Regions from separate parts of the Homo sapiens genome. Here regions 1, 2 and 3 are each linked to region 4. The links come from fine-mapping of genetic effects on gene expression. A gene starts in region 4. Each other region holds a variant in brackets. All regions are shown on one strand. Distances are between the middles of the regions. Region 1 overlaps NPAS3 (neuronal PAS domain protein 3). Region 2 overlaps EGLN3 (egl-9 family hypoxia inducible factor 3). Region 3 overlaps LOC102724945 (a long non-coding RNA gene). Region 4 holds the start of EGLN3 (egl-9 family hypoxia inducible factor 3).

Region 1 (5,153 bases), 250 kb before region 4:
TCATAGCTTAACTTCTTTCAAGAGAGAGATCACATTAAAGCTTTTGCCTCGCCAGCCCTCAGAAGATGCTCACAGGATGCTACAGGAATATCTTACGTTGTAAAATAATTTCACTCCCCAAAGAAGATAAATCACATTTTTGGAACTTAAACACTTTCTCATCATTCCACATCCACCTTGCTCTTTAGGTCATTCTGAATTAGTAATACCCTCCCCTAAACGTTAGCTTTAAAAGCCCCTGACATACTTCCCTTCCTCAGACAGGTTTCACAAAGGAAACTGAAATATTCCAGCAGAATTCCCTATTTAAAATAATCCTTTGCACAAAGAATATTTATAAGAATCTCCATTGTAATTTTCAATTGAATTGATCTATAGTTAATCAATAGTGGAGACTTGGCTAAATAAAGGATGAAGGTAAACCATGGGCCAAAATATCATGCTGCCATTTAAAAGAATGCTGAGGATGTACATGTCCAGATATGGAACCCAGTTTTCAAGCTATCCAGCAGAAAAGGGAAAGGGGCAGAACACATATTGGTTGCTGTCATTTATGTACCAAGTGAAAGCAGGTACAGCCACATGTGCTGGCATGTGGACAAGAATCTCTGCAGGGACACATAGGAAACACAGAGGTGGCCTGTGAGACAGACCCTAGGAAATCTCAGGTGAGAGTTGGGAGGAAGGCTTGTTCTCGCTGTATACCCTTCTGTGCTGTTTTAACGTTTCAAAAAAAAACATGTGCATGTGTTAACTTTCATTTTAACGTTTTTAATTGCTAGAAAATATCAAACATTTAAAAGCTGGAATAATAAATCATTTTAAAATAAATATCATTAATTAAAACCAACCAATTAAGTAAAAGGGAAATAATTTTCTTAATTATATTTTTATATCACGGTGGATCCTTTTGTGATGAAAACAACCCTGCTAAATTGTAAATTTGCGTTGGCAATAGATCTGTTTTTCTGAAACCGAAGCGCACTCTCTGAGTAAGTTCTGGGAGCTCAGGAAAAATTATTTGCACGGAATCACCAAGCAGTTAGCTCCTCCAGCCTTGAAGACAGAAAGGGCGCCAGGAAAGTGGCTGCATTCGTGGAAGAGGAGAAAAGCGAATCAGAATGCAGCCCTGTAACCTCTGGCAACAAATAGTACTCAATGTGAAATGGGCACTAATAGAACATTCAATGCTGAAACCCTTTGCCTCGGCCAGAGTAATTAGAACTGTAATTCAGATTTGGGATTTTTCTCCAAGGTTTCACAGCTTATGAAGTCAGCAGAACAGGGTTATTAAATCATAGCCCAGTACCAAGTCAAAGACATTTTTTTTTAAATGTAGAAGACAGGGAAAATGCAAGCAGCAGCTGAGCAGTCCTGTGGGTGAGGCGATGAACCCGTACACGGCACAGCTAATGACCTGTTTTAGGGGCACAGCTCATATATTCCAAATAACAGGGGGGAAAGAATTCCAAATAGCTTAACATCATTAAACCCAAAATGCTATTGGATCCTTCCTCTGTGGCATCATAAAATACCCTATCCAAGTGGAGAAGGGATATGCTTACTGTAAATCATGGAAAGTTTATGCCACCCCAGATGCAAACTTCATACTAACTTGTTCCCTCTGGGGAAGGTTCATGGGTTTGCTTTGTTTGGGGGTTTGGCTTGTTTTTTTAAAAGCAATAATAGTCTTTGTAGGATGGCTGCCGTGTCAGCATTTATCTTGAAACTCATGGATATGAGTTCTGACTGGAGTCACCTCTCTGACAAGTGTTATTGCGACTGTGTTTTATATCCCTGTTCAGAATGGTTTCTGATGATAATGCTCTGTCTACCTCGCTGCTTCACACTAAATTATAGATGCCACGATGACAGGGCAAACTGCATCCGAGCACAGAGCTCAACTCCCTTTGTGTGATGTCAGTGCCTCCACCCTCCTGTGCCTGGAATTAAAAATGGGGAGCGAAAATATGCAAAACATTTGTGCTTAAAAATAATGTTCTGTCAGTTATTAAACAAGTGATATTTCATTTAATCAGCTCAAGGGATTATTTTAAATGAAAAGGCAGAGAGGATGATTTTATTAACACATTCCTGCCCTAGAGTCCTACGGTAATAATTCTTTACCTGCCTAAATTAAAAAGTTATAATTCAGTCTGTCTACAGGAAGAAGTTCTGGGTGATTGGATTTTATTCGTTCTTTGATTTTTAGTTGCTCACAAATGGAGGTAAAGGCTGAAAAGCTTATCCTATAGCAGTGAGGATGTTTTAGCTAGTTAATAAATCACCCCTTCTCTAGATAGTGATTGCGTCCAGGACTTATAAAGCAAGTGTGCTTCTGAACACAGTATTTTATTGAAATGGGGTTGGTCTGACCAATCCACGTATAAATTTGAACTTCCCTGCAATTCATTCCACCACACGTTTAAACCCAGTGTG[G/T]AAGATTTCGCTACTATCCAAAATATGTTTCTTAATGTTGTTTAATTGTCAAGTACAGATAAAGCACCATGTAGGTTCTGGAGGAAAAAGAGATACAAATGAATACAATTACATTCCTGACTTTAGTGGAGCTTATAGGCTAGTAGGAGAAGCACGCATGTGAACAAAGAATTTAAGGGCGTCCGTGAAACAAAGGGGAGAGGAGAGGAGAATGAAGTAGCTGATTTGTGGGTTCCATTACCTACCCTGTCCTAGTGCAAGGAAGCATCAGCACTCTAATACCTTTCATGAATATGGTGCTGCACAGCCTACCAAGTATTTTCAAATACATGCTCATGTTTGTCCATCTGAGTTCCATAACAACCCTGTGAGGTTAGGACTGTCTTTTTTATTTCCATTTTACAAATGAGAAAACTTCAAAAACAGAGAAATGCATAACTTTGCCTGATCATTGATCTCATGGTTTAAACCTGAACTTCAAAGTCTGTCCTTATTAAAGCATAGATTGTTAACCTGCAGGTCTGTTTGGCCATCCCATATTGAGAGGAACACTATATGCAAAACTGCGTATGGATGTGAGTCATTGTTCTTGAAAAAGGGATTTGCTCAAATTCTCAGAGTGGACCCTGGCTCCAAAAGACAGTGGGAATTACTGTTTCAGTAGAATCCTTCATTAGTTTTTAGATCCTTGGCTTTTCATTAATGTCACTAATTTGTTTTAATTTTTTCTAGAGAGTGGGGAAAATGTTATAACAATTTTGGTTTGCTTCATATTTAGACACAGTTCCACTCCCAGCCACCTTTTGTCTTACAATTTCTACACAGGAGTATTTAGAGCAACTCTTTAAAGGCCTGTTCCTTCACTCATTCATTCATTTATCCATTTAACAACTTTTTGAGTATTTCCAGTGTTCGTACTGAATCAGTCTCTGCCCATGAGGTACAATTTGTGATTAGGTCATTGGTTCATTTGTTTATTTAACCCAAATTCTGTGTGCAGAGATATCTACCAAATGCTTTGGAGGCTACAAAGATGAATAAGAAATGGTATCTGCCCTCAGGGATCTTACAATCTAGCAAGAGATGGATGTAGAACCAACTATATAGGAAGCAAAACTAAACTGAGATGCTGTGGTAGAAAAAAAGTAGATTGTCAAACTGTTCAGCCTTCTAGAGAAGATGCAAGATAAAAACTGGAGAACTTTCTGGAAAAGTGCCTAAAAGGAGTATTTTCAGTTCCTTTCAGAAGTAACTCTCTAGAGAGGCTGTCCTCTGTTCCATGTTAATTGTGATGCTCTTTCAAATTCTCTTTAAACATGCAAATGGTATTGGTCATCCAGTTATTGCTCTCACCCAGTATCAATAGTTATCCCTGTCCCTTGGACAGAATTATCTTGGCTATGTAAGAAGGGAATTCAGCCAAAAATGCAATTGGTGGGAGAGTGGCTTTCTATTGCATTTGGAACATACTCCTATCATTTTCAGTCATTTTCAGTGCTTTTGATGGATCTCTCCAGTTGGAAAGAACTCAAAACCAATTTCAGTGCAGATGCAAATAATCCTAACAAATTATTCTATAAATATACCACAAATAGCAATACTTTGTGAGGTTAATAGCTCTTACTTATCAAATAAGGGAACTGAAAAACAGAAGTTGGGTCCATGTGAGGAAAGTGGATTGACTCTGAATCCAGAGACCTGTTTCATGGTCGACATGACTTTTCTATGTATAACCTAGAAGAACACTAACATTCAATGGATTGACTCATAATTACAGGGGTTATCTTTTTAAGAGTAACTTATCATTTGTCTGGCTCCTGTTCTAGATATGTATGTGGAACCTGAAGGGGAGAGGGTGGGAGGGCAAGAAGATAGAGACCTCATCTAACCCACATTAGACAAGGAGTGAGAATAGAATCAGCTCCCTGAATGGCAAACTTGTGTTACAACCACTCTTGTCAGTAAGGATTGAGGGAGCTGGGGGTGCGAGTTGATGTACATTCTCTTCTTTGAAAATAAGCCCTAGGTTGATCATTCTGGGTGTGAAATATCCACCTGACAATTTCCACTTAAGCTAGAAGATATAAGCCACATTATATGGCTTTATGTATATATATCAAACTTTCCAATTGAATTAGGACTTTTAGTTTAATACAGCAGATAATGAAATGCAAACTCCATCCTGAGTCAATATATTTCCTTTGGAAATCGCATTAGTTGGAGGTGGGGTGGGGGAAGAGGATTGGGGCAGAAGAATTCCTGTACTGTTTAATGTAGAACTTGCAAAATTATAGTCAAAAGATACATGTTCTAATGAATAGCGTTATGATATTAAATTACCCTTGGCTGGGAGCAGTGGCTTATTCCCATGATCCAATCACTTTTGGAGGGTGAGGTGGGATTGCCAGAGGCCAGGAGTTTAAGACTAGCCTGTGCCACACAGTGAGACCCCCCATTTCTACAAAAAAAAAATTTTGAAAACATTTTTCAGGCTTAGTGGCATGTACCTATAGTCCCAGACACTTGAGAGGCTGAGGCAGAAGGATTGCCTAAGCCTGGAAAGTTGAGGCTACAGTGAGCCATGATCATACTGCTGCACTTCAGCTTGGGCGACAGAGCAAGACCCTGTCTCTTAAATAAATCATTGACTCATTCATTTATTCATTTATTCTCATAAGTCTTAATTTTTCCAGGATCAGGGGACTTGCTTTCTA
Region 2 (5,153 bases), 26 kb before region 4:
ATCAACACAACAAGAAAACAGCATACTAAAAACCGTATTGGGATGAGAGTAGATGGGGTCTGAAAGTAGACTGGGTCTTTAACATAAACCAGCATATATTATCCAACAGAGTTCAACTATAGACAGCTTCATTTGAAAAGTTTATTTCCTCTGGGCACGGTGGCTCACGCCTGTAATCCCAACACTTTGGGAGGCCGAGGCAGGTGGATCACGAGGTCAGGAGTTTGAGACCAGCCTGGCCAAGATAGCGAAACCCCGTCTCTACTAAAAATACAAAAATTAGCCGGGTGTGGTGGCGGGCATCTGTAATCCCAGCTACTCGGTAGGACGAGGCAAAGAACTGCTTGAACTCGGGAATCAGAGGTTACAGTCAGCAAAGACGGCGCCACTGCACTCCAGCCTGCGTGACAGAGCAAGACTCTGTGTCAAAAAAGAAAAGTTTATTTCTATTCTGTTCTAACAATACTTTCTAACCACCTTACTAACCAACTCTTCATGCCATTCAAAAGATTCAAGACTGTAGCTAAGTCAATGTTGTATCGTTTTAAAAAATAACTTTACTAAGAATATCCCTTCTGCTTGTCCTCGTAGTCGATCAAATATATAAGTACCTGACATATCCAAACTCCTATCTTATATAAACTGCTGGCCCAGCATGGCATTTCCCATCATTGCTTTCTAAAACACAGGAAATTTCAGTACTGAATGGCCAAAAGAAATTAGGACGACCCAGCCTCTAAAAAACCTGAGTTAAAGAAAAACAAAATCATGTCTGAATGGATAATTCATGATTCTGACAGTCCAGCATTTAATGGTATTAACTACTCTACTAAGGATCTATCTAATGCACTTAGGTAAGACTTTTTATTTCCATGAAATTGGATCTTTGGTTCAAAATTTAATCTCCTACCAAGAACTCTGGACTATATAAGTGACATAATGGTGAGGTAGGCTCTTAATATTTCATTGCCGGGAATATAAATGAAATTGATCAGATTATTTGCCAAATAATGTTTCTTTAGCAGGGCTAACTCCTCCCCTAAATGGGCTGTCAAAGAGAGGAGCAAAAAACAGACTCCTAGCATTAAAGTTGTATTTTCCAGCTTAATTTTCCAGGACTCAAATTGAGTCATTAAAAAAAAAAAAAAAAAAAAATCAGTGCACATAAAAAAAGTGGTTTGTTAGCTTATAGGACCTTTGTCTGGAAGGAATAAACAAAGCCTTGGAGGTCAGATCTTTTGGCATATTGACTAAAATGAAAAATACAAGACATGCTTTTGGAACTATATGATCCTCCTTCAGAATATTGTCACTATCATTCTTATGACATTAGAAATCATGAAAAATATATAACTACAATTTTACAGAATACAAAATTCCTAATAAACTTCGTCCTTTCTTTCCTATTGAAATTTTTCAAGATTGTTCGAAAGGGGAATTCACTCTGTCCTATCTGAGACTAATGTTATTTTACTAATGTTGTTTCTAGGATATGGAAGGGCAAAATATAATTTGTTCAATTTTCAGATTCATAGTGGTCAGTGAATGACCTATTCATGGGTATACAAATACGAAGCAACACTATGACCAAAGCGTTCTAAAACTCTTAGCGTAAATGTGTAAGTCAACAATGTTAAAAAGATGTGTGTAAAAATTCTAGCAAGCCCTTCCTGCCAAAGATGGAATATATTAATCAAACCATTAGAATGCTAATGTAGGAGACTGAGTTTATTCAACAAGTATTTACTGAGCCCTTACTATGTTCCCGGCACTATTTTAGGTGCTGAGAGTATGTTGCATTGGTTAAAAATATACAAAATTCCTGTCTTCATTGTGCTTACACTCCAGAGAAAGGATACAAGACAATAAACATAATAAGTGAATAAATTACATAGTAATTTAGAAGGTGATAACTATTACCGTACAACAAAATAGAGCAGTCGTTGAGAATTAATGGTGACATGTCTTATCTGGAAATTTTCCAAAACCAGAAGAGGAAAAAGTAAACTTCTATCTTGGAAGACTATATATATATATATCCGTACATAACAAAGGAAAATATTTCTGGCTCTTTAATGTTCATGGGATTTTCAAGCAAGAAATTAAAGGGATTTTTAAAACATGAAAGTAATACTGAAAACTAGGAAAAGTAGCTTTTGCAAAATACGTGCTCAATACCAAGTTATTGAGGCAGTGCGATCTGTGCTTACTGCAGGAGTAGAAGCTTCCACAGTTCTAGCAAATTCCATGATTCTGGTCATACTGCCAACCACAGTGGATCTAGAGAGCCAAGTGAGCTGAAGAAAGACTGCTAGGGACAGACGAGAACTCAAATAGCTTTGAGATTTTTTTATTTCCACTTCCTTTTTTAAAATACATCACCTTGCTTTTTTTGTGTTAAAGGGTGAGCTCATTAAAAAGGAAAACTAAAAAAAAAAAAAAAAAAAAAACAGGAACACCCACATTTCCAACTCCACCTCCCCTCTCAAATTGTTCAAGATGCACACATGTTTATTGTATATCAGTAGACCTAGCTCTTTCCACAGTTATCAGTGGTTAACACAAAACTACCAGGGATATATTTTTCCTTTCATTTAAATTTAAATTCCATTCCAACAAAGCAACCAAAACAACTAATGTCTAGTTTTTTAGCTTCTGGGGAATTAGGTTCCCAGGTAAGAACTGAAAATGGAGAAAAAATTGTGTTGCCATCTTTATTCAGAAAGTCATTATTTTCAGCAAAATGGGGCTGAGGCAGAAAATCCAGGTTGCAGGACTGGGAAAAAAGGAGTGTCTGCCCCATGGGACACTTATAAATTGTTCACTATGACAGCAGCCCTTTCTAGAGGTATTAATGTCATTAGGTTGTGATAATTCTCCAGAAACCCCAACAGCCCTGGATTAAGAACATCTGGAAATTGTTCAGATGACACAAATTTCTCTGTTTCCTGCTGTTAAGGCTTCCGTGATGCCTCTCTGTGGCATCTACCACCTCCATTTTTTTCTTTTCAAA[C/T]CTCCTCCTTTCAAATCAGGAAGTATACATAAAGTGCAAGTAAGGTTCATTCCCTCGCTGTGCTCCTAGGCTCTTCTCTTGATAGTATTACCGAATCTATCAGGTAAACCGCTGGCCGAGTAGGATGTCTGCAGGAATTTCTGGAGTTAGCAAGTAACTTCATCTGGCAAAGAGAGTATCTGAAGATCAACACAGTCTTGGCAAGAAAACATGAAGTACCACACACAAGACAGGGATGTGAAGGATGCAAGAAGTAGCAGGGAGATTGTTGTCACTGAAGAGGCCATCTTTGGATCTCAAAGAATTTAAGAGAATTCAGGAACCGTTACTAAAATGAACAAGGCCAGCAGATTTCAGAGCACGGTCAGTCTTCAGTGAGGGCAGATTCAGTTTTCCCTGGGTTGGGGACAGAAAGGAGAATAAAGAGGGTATGGAGTCAGCTCTGATGAGTTTTATGTCACAAATGTCACCAAAAAGCCTCCAGTAAACACTTCCCATCTTATATAAGCCTCCTAATAGAGCTCTGCCAAAGGATTCTCTCTTGACTTTGCAATGGGATCTTTCCCATATGCCTCACAGACTGTGGAGGAACTTTGGGTTTACATCCAGCATTGGCACCTCTTGGGCTAATGCTGAGCATAAGTTGTATGAAGTGTAGCCTCACTCACATATCAGAGTTAAGCAGTGTAGGCCATCTGGAAGAGAAAACAAACTGAGATTTCCTGGGTGCAATTTGGAGACCACTTTGGTATTTGAGAGGTATACAGTCCAAATGGGTTATGGGCTAGGCAATATTATATATGTTTCCTTACTGCAGGATCTCTTAGCGCCTTAATTTAATATGCTAGTGAGCAATGTGACTCTTTTTAAGACAGGCATACAGCATGCAACATTTCCCACATTTTTGGGACCAGGAATTTACCAAATTGGCAGGATTTGTGTTTTAATGCAACGTATTTTGGGAAATGCTGCCTTCTAATACTGGTTGGAAGGGATAGGAGTAGTGCTGTTATATTCAGTTTATATTACATGAGCCCTGCTGTTATACTGAGAGTCACAGTCTCACCCAATATAATAAATTTTGCCATCATAACTGGGTTCCATTATATTTCCTTTGCAATATGCCAAAAATCATGGGCAAAATTTAATGTTACATTTGACTGGTTAACATTAATAGGAAAAAGTTAACTATTTCCCATCTATCATAAACCATCATACATTCAGTGGGCATTCTCAGGGGAAGCCCCTTGCATTGTTTCTGATTTTTCTAAGAGCCCTAAGGCCAAGGTTTCAGGATAAAACCCATCAAGATGTCATTATATATAAAGCTAAGCCGTAACAGATTGAACAGAACATGTTTAAAACTACATAAAATTGAATAAAAGTCAAGGATTAACTTGATCAAAAGTCACAGAAAATTATCAAACACATACTAGTTAAATTCCTGAATTTCTTTTTGGCTTCTGCCCTTTCTTCAGCATCAAAGTACCAGACAGTCATAGCATATCTGTGAAAGATAAGCAGATATAAGGAAAGAGATTTAATGGTACTACTAGAAACACAAATGTCCTATAAATCTCACATTAAAAGTTTTAAAGTTTTCTCTATTATTAGAAGTCTACCCTGATTTATTTATTTATTTATTTATTTATTTATTTATTTATTTTTTGAGATGGAGTCTTGCTCTGTTGCCAGGCAGAGGCGTGATCTCGGCTCACTGCAACCTCCACTTCCCAGGTTCAAGCGATTCTCCTGCCTCAGCTTCCCAAGTAGCTGGGACTACAGGTGCACGCTACCACACCCAGCTAATTTTTAAATTTTTAGTAGAGATGGGGTTTCACCATGTTGGCCAGGATGGTCTCGATCTCTTGACCTGCCCACCTCGGCCTCCCAAAGTGCTGGGATTGCAGGTGTGAGCCACCATGCCCGGCCTGTCTACGCTGATTTTAATTTAAAATTAACTTCTCTGGTTTTAATTCTATTTCAATGTAATAAAATGCATAAGGAATTCCAGGTATGTGCCAGAAATTATCTTGGGCATTAGGAATTCAAATGACCCTGTGATCAGATCTTCCTCTGCGATCTCAGGCTCCAAGTAGGGGAGACAGGTGATTTTGCAATAATGCAACAGGTAAACATA
Region 3 (5,153 bases), 58 kb after region 4:
AATACCATTAGTTATTAAACTACATACTTAAAGCCAGGGAGGAAGGACTGAGGGTTTGTAACCAAAGAAGTAAAAACGAGGTGCTTTTTTGTGAACAGAGGCAGCTTTCCTCCATCATTTTCTGCCTGAGGCACTGGTTTCTAGTCATTAATTTATTAAACATTAGTTAGAAACTACTTGGAGTGAGCCCCTAGGGGAGATAAAAAAATGAAGGATAAGACACCCCCTCCACCCTCAAAGAGTAAGAGTCTAGGAGCAGAGAAAGTATGCAGATTCCATAGTTGCACTCTGGAGCCAGACCACCTGGGTTCCGATTCCAGCTATGACACATACTAGGTGTTTATCCGTACCAGTTATTTAAGCTTTGTGTGAATACTAAGTGGATTTATCTTGTAGGCTGTCATAATCATTAAATGAACTAATGTAAGAAAAGTTCTTAAAATTAGTACTTTGTTTATATTTTAAAAAAAAAAGCAATATACAAAAAACACAGTGAAAGTTTTTCTAGAAAGAGATTTTGATATAATCCCAGTGGGGAGAATTCATTCCAGGATTCAGGGCACAATGTGAGCAAAGATTCAGAGAGTAAAGCATAAAGAGCGCTTTGGAAATAGCAACTAATCCATTGCAGTTAAGACTTTTGGGTCTGTTAAAAGGAGTGCTGAGAACTGAAACCAGAAAGGCAAGATGGGCCCGGATTACCCAAAGGGCCAAGAATACCAAGCCAAAGAGCTGTGGCTCTGTCCTGCACGCGCTAGAGGACCACCAAGAGTGTTTGAGCCAGGGAGAAGCATGAATGTTGGAGAAACACTAATTATTCCCTGTGTTTTAAATAATCACTGTGTTCATAGCAAGTGCCAGACATTGTGGGCAAAATGGTCCCTGCCCTCATGGAAGCTTCAGGTTAGAGGAGGAAGGAGATGTTAAATAACCGAACGAATAAGAGTTGTGAAGGAAAAGTGCAGAGTGTTCTGAGAGCTCGTAAGACACCTTAACGTAGATGGAGGGGTGAGGAAGTCAGGCTGAAGAGGTGACACCGGGCTGAGATGTAAAGATATGCAGGAGTGGGCCGAGTGGGCTGGAGAGAAGAGTTTGCTGGGCAGAAGAACAGGACGAGCATAGGCTCTGTGGCAAGAGGGGAAATGACACTCCAAACCTTCTGGGAAAAGGCCAGTGGAGGTAGAACCAGGGGCCTGGGAGATTGTGGTTTGAGATAAGAAAGTGTTAGGCAGGGTTAAATTACCCACCACCTTGGCCACACTGATTGAGCCAGGTATCAACACCTGGCCAAAAGACAGGCTCCTTTAGACTCCTCCGCCAGGTCATCATAAGGTGACCTCGAGTGACACCAGATAGTTATTGCCAGAACCAATCAATGCCTCTCTCTTGGGGAGTTTGAACGTGAAATAGACAGGGAGAAAAAGACTCAGGAATAGAGAAAAACAGACTGACAGATAAATAGAATACAGTGGCAATGCAGAAACAGACATAACATGAACCCTGTAGGCGATATTAAGGATCTTGGTCTTTATGTCAAGCACAAATACCGGTAAGAAATGATGGGGACTGAAAGAGGATTACAGAAGCAGAAATGAAGAAGAGGGGGTGGTAGTTTCAAAAATATGTCCATAAGGACACTTCTCACTTAATTCCTTCTTTTTGAGTGTAGGCTAGACTTAGCTGTTTCCTTTTAACAAACAGAATATGGTAAAAGTAATAGTGTGTGACTTCCAAGATTAGGTTCTAAAGAGGACTGCAGCTACCACCCTGAGCACATACGTTCTCCCCCAACCCACTCCTCCTCCTCTCCCACTACCCCTCCCCAAGTGGGGAAAGTAAACTGTCATGTGGTGAGAAGCCCTGTAGAGAAGTCCATGGTGAGGAACTGAAGCCTCCAGCCAATAGCCAGGAAGGAACTGAGATCTGCTTACAACAATGAGTGATTTTTTTTCTTTAATTTCCATGTTAATTTTAGATTCAGAGAGTACATGTGCAGGTTTGTTACAAGGATATTTTGCTTGGTGCTGAGGTTCGGGCTTCTACTAGTCGTGTCACCCAAATAGTAAACATAGTACCTAATAGAAAGTTTTCCAGCCCTTACCCCCCAAACTTTGAAGTCCCCAGCGTCTATTGTTGCCATCTTATGTCTGC[G/C]TGTAGCCAAGATTTAGCTCCCACTTATGAGTGAGGACATGAGATAATTGGTTTTCTGTTTCTATGTTAATTCGCTTAGGATAATGGCCTCCAGCCACATCCGTGTTGCTGCAAAGGACATAATTTCATTCTTTTTATGGCTGTGTAGTTTTCCATGATGTATATATACCATATTTTCTTCATCTCATCAGCCATTGATGGGCACCTAGGTTGATTCCATGTCTTTGCTATTGTGAACAGTGCCAAGATGAACATACGAGTGCATACGTCTTTTTGGTAGAACGATTTATTTTCTTTGGGGTGTATACCCAGTAATGGGATTGCACGGTTGAATGGTAGTTTAGTTTTAAGTTCTGTGAGAAAACTCCAAACTGCTTTCCACAGTGGCTGAAGTAATTTATGTTCCCACTCTGCAGCCTCACCAGAATCTGCTGGGTTTTGTTTTTTTTTTACTTTTTTATAATAGCCATTCTGGCTAACGTGAGATGGTATCTCATCGTGGTTTTGATTTGCATTTATCTGGTAATTAGTGATGGTGAGCATTTTTTCATATTTTTTGGCCACTTGTATGTCTTCTTTAGAGAAGTGTCTGCTCATGACCTTTGCTCACTTTTTTTTTTTTTTTTAATTAAACAGGGTCTTGCTCTGTTATCCAGACTGGAATGCAGTGGTATGATCATGGCTCACTGCAACCTCAAACTCCCGATTTGCCCACTTTTTAATGGAGTTATTTATTCCTTGTTGATTTGTTTAAGTTCTTCACAGATTCTGGATATTAATTCTTTGTCAGATGCATAGTATATGAATATTTTCTTCCATTCTATAGATTCTCTATTTACTCTGTTGATGGGTTATTTTGCTATGCAGAAGCTTTAGTTTAATTAGGTCCCACTTGTCAATTTTTGGTTCTGTTGCAATTGCTTTTGAGAACTTGGTCATAAATTCCTTGCCAAGGCCATTGTCCAGAAGAGTATTTCTTAGGTTTTCTTCTAGGATTTTAATAGTTTGAGGTCTTACAAAGTCTTTAATTCATTTGAGTTAATTTTTGTATATGGTGAAACATAAGGGTCCAGTATCATTCTTCTGCATGTGGCTAGCCAGTTTTCCCAGCACTATTTCTTGACTAGGAGTCCTTTCCTCATTGCTTTTTCTTGTGGACTTTGTTGAAGATCCATTGGTTGCAGGTATGCTGCATTATTTCTGCCTTCTTTATTCTGATCCATTGGTCTATGTCTCTATTTTTCTACCAGCACCATGCTGTTTTGGTTACTGTGGCCTTGTAGTGTAGTTTAAAGTTGAATAATGTGATGCTGCTGGCTTTGTTCTTTTCATTTAGGATTGCTTTGGCTATCTGGGCTCTTTTTGTTGTTGTTCCCTATGAATTTTAAAATAGTTTTTAAAATTTTTAAAATAATATTAGAGATAGGGTCTTGCCATGTTGCCCAGGCTGGTCTTAAACTCCTGGGCTCAAGCAATCCACTCACCTCAGCCTCCCAAAGTGCTGAGATTACAGGCATGAGCCACCCGGCCTGGCCAGTTTTTCTAATTCTATAAAAAATGGCATTGATCATGAGTGATCTTAAAAGTGGTTCTCCATCCGTAGTCAACCTTTAAGATGACTGCAGCCCCAGATAACAACTTGCCTACAACTTCATGAGAGATCAGCTAAGCTAAGCCACTCTCAGATTCCCAGCCTTCACAACCTGTATGAAATAATGGACATATTTTAAGCTGCCAAGTTTTGGCACAATTTGCTATGCACATTGCGTAATGAACACAGAGAGAGATGAATGAAATTCATATTATATAGGTGGAATTGCCAGGACTTTGTGATCATAGCTATTGGGTATAGAGTTGCAAAAGAAGTAAAAAGAATCCCGAGCTTTGGACTGGCTCACTGAGGTTCTATTTTTAGAGAAGGGGTTGGAACACGGGAGGAAGAATTTTGCGGAGAAAGAAAATAATTTCCATTTTGAACTCATTAAATTCGAGAGGCTGATGAGATTTTCAGGTGAATATGTCCCCTGGAGATTTGAAAATATGGCAGGGTGTTAGAGTGGAGAGGGCTGTATGGATAGATATCACTGGGGTAGAGGAGAACCATGGCAGTGGAGGGTATTTCCAAGGAGAACAAGGAGATAATAAAGGCAGATGAAGGACAAACAGCAAGAATTAGATATATTTTTGGTCCCAAAAGTGGAAAAAGAGAAGTAATGCTAAAAAAAAAAAAAAAAAAGAAAAACGGTAAAAACTCTAACGAGAGTTTTGATAAGAAGATATTCAACAGTATCAAAAACTATAGAAAGAGATCCCTATGTCTGGAAAGTTTGGCCTCACATTATACATCTGCATATTAGATTATCTATAAATCTCCTAGTTGGGGTAAGTCAACACTGGCTGCACAGATTAAATCAAATTTCAAGAGCTACAATGCAAAAAACAAGAACTGAATTGTGGTCACCCCAGCAAAGCACTGGCCACCATGTGAAGCTCCCCACAGGTGGTCTATGTGTCTTTTTACAATACTCCTCTCAAATTACAACAGAAGGGACGCTCATGGTTCTCTCTAGACAACCTGCTCGTTTTAGAACGGGGGTTTTTCAAGTTGCAAAATATGGAGACCTTCTCGTTTACTCCAGGATAAAGATACTTAGGAGGCTTGAGGAAGCAAAGAAAATGGTTTCTGGGGCTACATGTGAGGCCTCATGGAGAACTGGAACGTGGTTCAGGATGAAGCAGCAGTTTCTCCAGCAGCCTGCCATTTCTGAAGCATCTCCTCCACTGAGTCCTTTCTCTACTTGCTGCTTCTTCTTAATCTTCTGCTAGCAGATGCCTTTCTATGCCTCCATTCATATCCTCTTCTACTGAAGTCATTACTTGCTTCATAGTGTCTGCTCACTGCCTTCTTTCCACGTCTCTCAGTTTCTGTGTCAACACTGGACTGCTGTCTATCAGTTGTCTGCTTTTCTCTAACTCTCTGTTCATCTCTGTCCCTAGTTCAA
Region 4 (5,153 bases):
ATTGGCCAGGGAATATTCCAATCGAAAGGTGATTTATCTAAAGGGCAGGGAGCTTTGTGACAAACCAGCCAAAGTAAACCTGGAAATCTGGGGGTGGGACAGGATAAATTTTATTTTCAATTCACGATCACCTTCTGACAGGGTCACCTGGAAAGTTTTTCATTCCACCCAAAAGATAACCTAAAATTGATGAATCATATCTACAGGATCTTTCTTTCCCTTACCCTAACTTACACAGTGTTTTTCCTTCCATTTGAGTTAAATTCTAGTCTGAAACCCTATCCCTATCCATTAAGTCAAAGCTAAATAAAAATATTTAACTTTCAATGTTAGTGGCCTCTTTCCATACCAATTAATCCTGACCTCCCTCAGAGCAAATTCTGCTCCTAGAATGATGAAGAAAAACTCCTAACACCTAAATTTACAAGAAACATTTAAAAACCCAATAAGAAGCCGTCTGCTCTTCCAGGTAGAAACTACCAGCATCTCAGCAACACTGAGGCTGACCCTTCCCCTCCCCGACACACCTCCACCACAGAAGACAGCAAGGTCATTTAATGCAAAAATCAAACTAGTCAAAGACGAGTGACTAATCCACCACCAACATGATGGAAGAAGAATAAAGAAACACTTTAGCATCAATCTCCTACAGAGTTCAGCTCACGCGGAATTTTTTTCCCCAAAGTAAAATTTAGAAAGCAGTATCTTCTAAGATTTACTTTACTTGGGTGCATTAATAACGATGCTTTCAGATATTCTATTCATGGCCTCTTGGCTTGGAAGTTGTACGGCAAACTGTGACTCCCCACTGCACTCATCCACCTCCACCCCTTCACTCCCACACGTTTCCAATCCTCACCACTTAGCCTTTATTCAGAGTGTTCCTCTCAGCGTATTAGAGAAATGAGAGAACAATGGTCTGTTCTGAGACAGGATCAGTCTTGAGACTGATTTGAGAAATACTATATTTATTGTCAAAGAGTGGTACATAGGTGAGTGTTCATCTTCCCTCTCATGCCGGTATACTCTGCTTCGCTGTTTCAGTAAAAGTTTTCCGTAGTTCTGAACGTCCCTTGACCACACCATAAGACAAGCGCAAGTCACTCAGAATTGCCACTGGAAAACTGGCTCAACTATCATTTGAGGAAAGACTGAGAAAGCCTATCCCAAAGTAATGGACATGCACCAACATCGCGGTACCTACATGTTCCCGTTTTTCTGCCAATCTACCTGTGTTTCCAAGATAAATTACCACCCAGGGAGTCACTTCCTGCTATGTGAACAAAAACCCGGTTTCTTTCTGGAGGTGCTTGACTACTCTCTCGTGAGCACTTAACTGGTTGTTTTGAGTGGACTTTGCCATCAATTCATAGTTAGGAAAAGGAAGGTGGTGGTGCAGGGCTCAGCATCAGGAGAGAATTTTCAGTCAAGAAGATGGTCTAACAATGTGCTGGGTCCCAGGGGGCAGAAGCAGCATTCAGAAGTGGAGTTTTACCCTTTCACACCTGCCCAACTCCACAAACCAACTGCCACATGGCAAAATCACAACTGCCTCCAGAATTCTGAGTGCTTTTGTAGAAATCTCTTCTGACCACAATGAAGGGCAGTATTAGGTGGCTTTAAAGTAGGCATTTAAGATCATGAGGACACGTGTGTCTCAGATGATACACAGTGTTTCCAATACCCTTTCCCTCCTTTGGATCTTTGAGAACCTCGTCTTAAAATCGGACCACAGCCACAGCTTGTCTGGCTTTTGTCACCCACAAGAGCCAATATTTCAAAGTCAACAGAAGGTCATCATCATGGTTCACCTGAGCCCCTTAACGTTGACTTTCGCTCAGAGGAGCTGGGGCGAGGGGTGGGGGGAAGCAGCGAGTAGAGACAAACCAGGCTGACTTCTTGGTTAAAAAACAAAGTTCGCTTACGGCCCTGGGAAGTCGACATACAACGGACTCCGAGTGCCTCCCGTCCCCGCGGGAGCAGCTGCGGCAGGGCGCCGAGCGCGTCCTACCTTAGACCTCTCCTTGACGTAGTATTTGCCCAGCCGGCTCCCGCAGTAGAGGACCAGCCTGTCGATGAGGGACAGGAGGAAGCTGATGGCCTCGCAGCCCTCCTCGTTGCCCCCGATCCACGTGATCTGGTCGCCCCGCAGGTGTCGCTTGGAGACGCCGGCGCGCGGCCCCGCCAGCTGGCCGTCCCGCAGGGCCCCGGTGCAGTGCAGCTGCTTGACGCGCTCCAGGACGCAGTCGCCCACCACCTCGCCCAGGAAGTTGTCCAGGTAGCAGAAGCCCACCTCGTGCAGACAGGGCACGATGTACTCCAGGGCAATTTTCTCCAGGTCCAGCCTCATGATGTGTCCCAGGGGCATCTCGCCCGCAGAATCGAGGTCCGGGATCCCCAGCGTGCAACCAGAGAGGGAACGATCTACACGAGCGCGAAGCCGAGGCGCGGGGAGCGTGGCCCGGGGTTCAGAAACCTGCGGCTGCCACGGTACCCGAGCCGCTGCAGCGTCGGGGACAAGGGAAAGTTTCTCGCAACTCTCGGGAGAAGGGATCTGCCTTCGGGAACCAGCGGGAGTGGTGCGGAGCTCCACGACCCGTTTCCGGACTGGCCCGGCGAGCAGTGCGGCGCAAGGAGTCGGAGGGCGCCTTTTGGGGATGGGAAGCCACCACTGCCGCGACTGCGGCCAGACTCCGGGAGACGCTGAGGTCCGGCCCTTAAGCCGGCCGACTCCGCGCGTCACGGGCTCCGCCCCGGGACCGCCTCCGGGACCGCCCTTTCCCCCGCCCCGCTGCCAGTCACCCCCGCCTGCTCTGCCCCTCCGCGAAGGATCCCAGAGAGCCCGGCGCCAACCTTAGTTGTTTGTGACCAGGGGAGCGGCTGGAAAGCAGACTGAATTTTTAGAATGCGCTGGATTTGCATATTGTTTTGCATAAAATCACATAACAAACTTGAAAACCTGGATCCCACACTGAAAATGTAAATAGAATTAACTGCCACATTCTGGGTTGGTCACCTCATAGACTTTTGAGCAAAATAATAACCCCAAAAACGAATATATTTATTAAGCAGTGGTCTTGTTCTACCTTTACCGGGTGTCTTTCCTTATTTACCCCATTCCTCTGCTGTTTGACCCAGTTCAAGCCACTGAGAGATTAGGAGGTATCTAGTTTTAACTAAAATTAATGCATTAACGAATATTTCCCTCAGCCCCTACTGTGTGCAAGGCACTATGTGCTTGAGGAGCTGGGGATGAGCACAATGAAGAAATGCTGAGTCATATCTGATTGAACTCTGCAAATGGTGTATTTTGCTTTGCTTGATGTTTTCCTCTACTTACCTTTCAAGCTTCCTATTAAAATATGATGTTCCGAAATTCTACCTTCCAAATTAATCACATGCTTCTGTAACAGTCAGAGGTATGTCCCCCAAAAGATACACTGTATTCTAGGTCTCTCACTTTTCCCACAAGCAGCTGTACTTTCACAAGAGGGACAGACACCACTGAGAAGACTTTGGTTATCTACAGATAAGCTGATTTGCTTTATGGAGTTTTGATTCCCTTTCCTACTGAACACCAGCGATCAGAATCAGGAAAAAATTCATAAATTGCATGCAAAGCTATTTGTACTTCTTTAAAAAAAAAAAAAAAGGAACTGTATTTTTTTTATTTATTTATTCTGAGACGGAGTTTTGCTCTTGTTGCCTGGGCTGGAGTGCAGTGGTGTGATCTCTGCTCACCACAACCTCCGCATCCCAGGTTCAAGCAATTCTCCTGCCTCAGGCTCCCAAGTAGCTGGGATTACAGGCGCCCGCCACCATGCCTGGCTAATTTTGTATTTTTAGTAGAGGTGAGGTTTCTCCACATTGGTCAGACTGGTCTCGAACTCCCGACCTCAGGTGATCCGCCCGCCTCGCCCTCCCAAAGTGCTCGGATTACAGGCGTGAGCCACCGTGCCCGGCCTATTTGCACCTTTTTTACTTCATATGAGTGCACACTTGGGTTCTTCATTTAAGTTGAAGAAAAGAATGTACAGGTTTTTCGGGTATTGTTTATTGTGGAAGCAAATTTCTACAGCTTTTTCACTTTTCTTCTTCCTCCAGCAGCCCTCTCCTCTCTGCCTCTGAGGGGAGAAAGGGAATGACATCCAGGACAAGAACAAAGAATAGAAGAGGAAAGGTGCTGCTACAAGTTGGAAAGAAGCAGACAGAGGCACGTGGTTGAGTAAGAACCTGGGGGATGGTGAAGGAGAGCAGTCAATGGTGGAGTGCTTAAGAAACTTTGATGAAACTTCTAGTTATATTGAGAGAGGTTCTCTGCCAAGTCAGTGATTAGTTGGCACCTTTGGTATTACCTTTGAGCAGGAGGTACCCCTCCTTGGGGTAAAGGCCATCACTGCTCAAAGAGCTCTTGTCTAAATTCCCAAGGCAGCTCCATGATGAGAGGAGACCATCATCCTTGGAACCCCAGTGTTTAGCACATAGTGAATGGCTAATAAATAGTTACTGGGAACTCAATGTCTGACCCTGAGCCATAGCAGCCTCCACTTGGGATTCAGTATGTCTGGGCTTATCTGGAAGGATCTATTTGCAAAAGGGGCTGGGGAGCCTCCCCAAAGAGAAGTCACTGGAAAAGAGTCAAGCAAATTAGCCTGACCCAGCACAAAAGCTTAGAGGCCAGTGGAGGGAGAACTTAGGAGTTCTACAGGGCATTTGTCTCTCAGCTTTGTCTATCTGAGCAGTGGACATTTGAGTGGTGGGAGCCAGAGACATAAAGTGAAAACTGGAGGACTGTTAAATTGCAGCAAAGGGCCAGGCACAGTGGCTCACACCTGTAATCCCAGCACTTTGGGAGGCCGAGGTGGGCAGATCACCTGAGGTCAGGAGTTTGAGACCAGCCTGGCCAACGTGGTGAAACCCCGCCTCAACTAAAAATACAAAAATTAGCCACACATGGTGGCAGGCATCTGTAATCCCAGCTACTCGGGAGGCTGAGGCAAGAGAATCACTTGAACCCAGCAGGTGGAGGTTGCAGTGAGCTGAGATTATGCCACTGCACTCTTGCCTGGGTGACAAAAGTGAAATTTAGCCTTAAAAAAAAAAAATTGCAGCAAGGAGTGAAATGGAGTGCAGTACCAAAAAGGAGGAAAGCC

The links. PIP is the estimated chance that this variant, and not a neighbour inherited with it, causes the effect.
Region 1: its variant is the best candidate, but not a certain one, in a credible set for the expression of EGLN3 in whole blood (INTERVAL, PIP 0.71).
Region 2: its variant is the best candidate, but not a certain one, in a credible set for the expression of EGLN3 in whole blood (INTERVAL, PIP 0.87).
Region 3: its variant is the best candidate, but not a certain one, in a credible set for the expression of EGLN3 in whole blood (INTERVAL, PIP 0.81).

Annotation. Positions count from the first base shown.
Region 1 is chr14:33,698,423-33,703,575 of GRCh38, forward strand. All of the region lies in intron 6 of NPAS3 (neuronal PAS domain protein 3), which reads left to right. Among named protein-coding and RNA genes, the nearest start is that of SNORA89, 7.9 kb to the right of the region's middle. The variant G/T (reference allele first, on the strand shown) is at 2,440.
Region 2 is chr14:33,922,514-33,927,666 of GRCh38, forward strand. It overlaps EGLN3 (egl-9 family hypoxia inducible factor 3), which reads right to left. Exons shown (of 5, transcript NM_022073.4): 4 at 4,447-4,520; 5 at 1,714-3,409. The coding sequence ends at 3,378. Among named protein-coding and RNA genes, the nearest start is that of EGLN3, 26 kb to the right of the region's middle. The variant C/T (reference allele first, on the strand shown) is at 3,014.
Region 3 is chr14:34,006,240-34,011,392 of GRCh38, forward strand. All of the region lies in intron 5 of LOC102724945 (a long non-coding RNA gene), which reads right to left. Among named protein-coding and RNA genes, the nearest start is that of EGLN3-AS1, 31 kb to the right of the region's middle. The variant G/C (reference allele first, on the strand shown) is at 2,152.
Region 4 is chr14:33,948,385-33,953,537 of GRCh38, forward strand. It overlaps EGLN3 (egl-9 family hypoxia inducible factor 3), which reads right to left and starts at 2,690. Exons shown (of 5, transcript NM_022073.4): 1 at 2,012-2,690. The coding sequence starts at 2,368. RefSeq lists an enhancer at 2,458-2,627 and a silencer at 2,748-2,827.